2 separate regions of the Homo sapiens genome follow, and region 1 is linked to region 2. A link means that fine-mapping ties the variant in region 2 to the expression of a gene that starts in the linked region. Tissue or cell type: testis. Region 2 holds a variant in brackets; the other region holds the start of a gene. All regions are shown on one strand. Distances are between the middles of the regions.

Region 1 (2,767 bases), 130 kb after region 2:
CTCCTCTGAACAGAGGTGGGCGGTTTGGGCTGCTTCTCAGAGTCACAGTCTGCAGGAAATCAACTCTGGCCTGATGGCACAGTGTCCGGTGGCCGCTTGGACACTGGCTCAACATGCACCAGAGCCAGGTCACGAGCTGTCACTCTCAATTCACCTTTGTTTCCAAACATTTGTTTCTGCCACTTTAAGGGGAGGGAAGGGTTTTAGCCCAAACAAACTCATGGTTTGGAGTCACTCACTGGAGGCGGAGGACACCTCCTGGGGGCAGTGAATAGGCAATGAGAGGGACTGGAAGGTCACATTTGCAGCCAGAGCCCAGGCTGCCCTGGCATGTCCGGCAGGACCATGGCCCGTCCTCCTATTGGACGGCTGCGTATCCCCTTTCCCTCGGTGACCACATTTCAGGACCCTTGATTTCTTTGCAAATCCCACCCTGCCTGGCCAGTCCCCTCACTCTCATGCCGACCGCAGAACCAAGGCTGCGCCCCTTCAAAGGCAGAGTTGGGGTAATTTTACTTGACAAGACTGCTGCCTGCCCTCCTCCTCTTTCCTCATCTGCCTTCCTCTCTCCTGACCCTGTTTATTATTATCAGGAAAAAACAATAGGTCCACATTTAAACTTCAAAGAAAAGCACGGGCTCAGGTTTCAAACAACTGCAGAGGCCTGGGCTTGGGACAGCTCCATCCCGCTCTCTCACCTGAACTACGGGGAACCTGGGGATGGATTTCAACTCTCTGCAGCCCAGCACTCAGGGTCAAGGTGAGGCCCAGTCTGTGACCACGGAGGAATTCTGGAATGTGGTGATGACCAACAGGAATTTTATGAGTGTCCCTCTGTGGAGGAGCCTGAGAGAAAGGCTCATGGAGGGCAGAGGGTGGAGGGCGTGGGACCAAGTTCCTTAGATAAGGCTGTGGCCCCATGGTAAGGGTCTGGACGGGGAAGGTCAGTGTTAACCCTTTGAAGGGCCCCCGGGGAGTGGATCAGGTTCAGAGCCCAAGGCTTTCACACATAGGTGTGTTCTAAAGCTGGTAAAGCCTCGGATCATCAGCCAGTGTCAGGTGTCACAGCATAGCCAAGCGACCAGACGAGCAGATGAGACCTTGTTAATCTCCAGTGGTGATGAGTAACCGTTCTCTCTATCACATATCACATACTGGGTGCGTTAGGGGGCCCTTAGGACTCGCTCCATTCTGCCTTACCCCACAGTGACTTGAAGGCACAGCTCCTGTTCCCCAAATGAGTCTCAGTGTGTTGTTCTCATTCCTGCCCTTTGAGTACATCTACCCAACCTACTGATTTCCCTTGTTTAATAGCATTTAAAGCTGGGTGCGGTGGCTCACACCTATAATCTCAGCACTTTGGGATTTTGAGATGGGAGGATTGCTTGAGACCAGGAATTCAAGACCAGCCTGGGAAACATAGCAAGACTCCCATCTCTACAAAAAAAAAATAAAATAAAATATTACCTGGGCACGGTGGTACATGCCTGCACTCCCAGCTACTCAGGAGGCTGAGGCTAGAGGATGGCTTTAGTCCAGGAGATTGAGGCTGCTCACTTGCTATGATCACGCCACTATACTCCAGCCTGGGTGACAGAGTGAGGCACTGTCTCAACAATAAATAAATACATAAAAATAGCATTTAAGCGATGGAGGGAGGGAGATCCTTTAGGCCTTAACCTGTGTTGCTAAACGGACCTTCAGAACTCCACCTAACATGTCAGGGACATCTTGGGAAGGCAGAGTGGAATAATTAAACAAGACTTGGTGCTGATGGCAGACAGGCCCCACTCCAATTCACCTCCACTGCTAGCTCACTCCATCTCACCTCCACTGCTAGCTCACTCCATCTCACCTCCACTGCCAGCTGGGCCTCTTTGAACAGGGCGCATAAGATAATTGAAACTTTCAGCTTATCTCTAGAATGGGGAAAATCATACCTATTTTGCAGACTTTATTCAGAGAGAAAGAAATGCATATAATATGCCTAGCATGGAAATTAATGTCCAATGTAATAGTTTTCTTTTTCCACTTTCCCCTGGAAGTGATTCATCCAGGTGGCGCTAGGAGGGATCTTCGCCGCAGAGGGCATTCGAGAGATGACAACTCTAGACATCCATGCAACTTCTGTTCTTGTGCTCCTGCTGTTTTCAAATTCCACAGTCACAGACTGCACCCTGGAAAACTCAGGACACCCTAGAGTGAACTGCTCTGAAGAACAAAGTTGCTACTTGCTTGCTACCTCTGGTTGCTACCCCTGGTTGTGTTTGGTTGCCACATAATGAAATGATTTTCCTTCCCTCTTTTATTTCCTTTCTTTCTTTTTTTTCTGCTACAAATGGAAAAATAGTTTGATCACCTTGAATCTTTTCACCCTTGGTATTCTCCCCCTTCACACCCGAGCACCGCCCCTTGATAAATGAGAACACGTGTACTGAAATCGCAGACTTCACCCTCCAGACTCATCGTCCTCATGCTCTCAGGGGGGACATGTTTCCTTTCAAACCTCCAGAATAAATTCATCACAGCAGGAAGAAGATTGTTTTTCTTAAAAAAAATCAAATCCTGTATCACAATTATTTCATTTCAGAGGGAAAATGCTCCCCTTCCATCTGAAACTTTCTTCTCTCCAGCTCTGCAGTCTTTGACCGTGGCGATCCGGCACCCTCGGCCCGGCTGCTTTTGCAAAGTCCACACTGATTCATTATTTCAGAGAGCCAAAGGGTGACACATGCATATTTTGAATATTACCCTGTATGTAGATCTG
Region 2 (2,767 bases):
TACAGCTTTTATTTTACAATATTGGTACTGTTTTAGCAGATTATTGTCATGTCAAAAGACTTTAATATGGCTCCGAACTCTTGTTTAATCTCATCATTAGTATTATTCACCATAGACTTAAACACAAGCAGGTTCATTGATTGCTTGAGCTACCTAGCTGTAGATGTTTTCTTCTCGTTTAATGTAGACATTCACAATATCATTCTCTCTCATATATACCTCTACGCCTTTGCATAATCCTCGTCTTCTAAAGATAATGTTCTGCAGTTTTCCTTTACTTGACTTATATTTGTTCATCTTCTGAAATTTGGGTCATTTTATTCCATTTTTATCACATGCATATCCATTCCATCAACAAACATTTATTGGGCAGATGGCATATGCCAACACACAGAGATTAAAACAAACAAACAAACAACCCAGCCCTGACATTTATGAGTTTACAGACTGGTGGAGAGGCAGAGAAGTAAACAGCAATGTATATCAGGTGTAATAGAGGTCTGTATGAGAACTGTGGTGAGGCAACACAGGGGAAGCCCTAACCTAGCTGTAACCTCATCCCAGTAAATGCAAAGTGGAAGCAACATTCTGCTGCCATTACCCACACCTATATTACATACCCACACCTATATTACATACCCACACCAGTTTATACATTTAAAGCAATATGCAGTTTAGTTGTAAAATGCAAAGCTTCATATAATAAACAGATAAAATAGTCATCAATAAAGTGTTTTCTAAATATATTAATTAATTTGGTTTGGTGCTTGCAATTACAGATTTTGGTTCTTACTCAGATTGTAGTTCTTTTTTTTTCTATTTCACAGTTATGTTTTCCAAATGCTGTAAGAGCAGATATCATTTAATGTAATTTCCTGATGATGAACAAGATAATATCTGCATATCTATGCTACTGTGATAGTACATGTGGTGTGTGCAACCATGGCATACTGGATGAAACTCATATCACTAAATACCAGTGAAATAGCTGTTTTGTGTGAATTTTAATGGAAATTTAGAAAATTACTGATAATTGGATCATAACGCATTTTTATAAAAAATAATTTTGTTCAACAAAAGTTTTCTTAGGATCCTGTTTCTTTAATAGCTATTCTCTTAATTTCACCTGATCATGTTTTTTCAGTTTCAGTTTATGAGGGGGGGCCGCAGCTTGCTCCCCTAAACTTTCCCCATTCCCACTGTGCCTCAATATCATACCTGAAATATTTAAGTCATTCTACCAAAACATAAGCAGACATATTCACCCTAAGATCGAGCAGTTCTTCGCTAAAGTGAAACAACATAAGACAAAAAAATATTTCATGAACTTAAGGAGTGAAAAAATGTATGATTGACATCTGCCTCTGTAGTTTCTCATCCTAGCTTCAGAGTACTTCTGTCCACTCGCAAATTCTCTGCATTCATTCTTGATATAAGTTTAACATAGTATTCTGTGTACTCATAATATAATTTCTAGATATATATTCATTATAATAGAATACCATCACAGCCAGGTGCAGTGGCTCAGGCCTCTAATCCCAGCACTTTTGGAGGCCGAGGCAGATGGATCACAAGGTCAGGAGTTGGAGACCAGCCTGGCCAACATGGTGAAACCCCATCTCTACCAAAAATACAAAAATTAGCCAGGTGCGGTGGC[G/T]CGTGCCTGTAATCCCAGCTACTCAGGAGGCTGAGGCAGGAGAATCGCTTGAACCCGGGAGGCAGAGGTTGCGGTGAGCCAAGATCGCGCCATTGCACTCCAGCCTGGGCGACAGAGGGAGACACCATCTCAAAATAAATAAATAAATAAATAAAAGATAAAATAGAATACCACCACATAAGCTGCAGATGTGCAGGTCAGTGGGGTGACTTCCTCCATAATTACTTTCAGGGCCTCTGACTGGCAAGGCTCTGCTTCCGGGGTTGCAATATTATCTACATCAGCAGAAGAGAGATGAGACACACATGCAGGAAGTTTCAGTGGGCCAAGTCTTGAAGAGACTTTGCTCACATTCTGTAGATGAGAACTAAATCCTGTGGCCAGAGCTACTTGTAAGGGAGGCTGAGAAATGTGGTGTAACACAGGAAGAGGAGAATCAATTACAATAACCAGCCAGTAGCCTCTATCACAGTCTTATAAATAGTAATTCTAGTTACGTCTTAAAACAATTATTGAGTGAATTCCCTTGAAATGCATTGTTATCAGAGTTAAAGATACGGTTCAATAAATAAAAAGTTATTTTCTTCTGAAATTCAGTAGATGCTTTGTAAAAACAGAAACTATTTCATAAGCATTTTGTGTGTACAAATTTTTATTTCTGTTTTTCTTTACTAGGACGGACATATAATGATCTGAACCAATATCCAGTGTTTCCGTGGGTGTTAACCAACTATGAATCAGAAGAGTTGGACCTGACTCTTCCAGGAAACTTCAGGGATCTATCAAAGGTAACTTTTAAATATATAGAAGTCAGCTTTCTTCATAAGGCTATAGTCTAATAGTATTTCTGTCAGAGTATATATAGCCAGTTAATGTTTGTAAGAAGGTGAAACTGATTATCTTGACTTACATAGTCAGTTTCTAAATCTTACCAATTCTTAGCACAGGAATTAAGCTACAAGAAGATAAACTAGTACTAGCATAGGCAAAATGAAATGGGTATTTGAGAAACAGCAGATGTAGAGAGAGTTTTCTCATATATCCTAGGCTTTAAAGTCAAGGTTAAAAACCTAAAATTAGTAGAAAATATGATGGCAAATCATTTATGTG

Evidence for each region. PIP is the estimated chance that this variant, and not a neighbour inherited with it, causes the effect.
Region 1: it holds the start of LINC00445, and the variant in region 2 is fine-mapped to the expression of LINC00445 in testis (GTEx, PIP above 0.99).

Annotation. Positions count from the first base shown.
Region 1 is chr13:35,696,694-35,699,460 of GRCh38, forward strand. It overlaps LINC00445 (long intergenic non-protein coding RNA 445), which reads left to right and starts at 1,034. Exons shown (of 2, transcript NR_132115.1): 1 at 1,034-1,158; 2 at 2,046-2,563. It overlaps LOC124903224 (a long non-coding RNA gene), which reads right to left and starts at 761. Exons shown (of 2, transcript XR_007063891.1): 1 at 699-761. RefSeq lists enhancers at 1-384, 385-980.
Region 2 is chr13:35,564,573-35,567,339 of GRCh38, forward strand. NBEA (neurobeachin) reads left to right here. Exons shown (of 59, transcript NM_001385012.1): 45 at 2,333-2,445. Among named protein-coding and RNA genes, the nearest start is that of MAB21L1, 89 kb to the left of the region's middle. The variant G/T (reference allele first, on the strand shown) is at 1,658.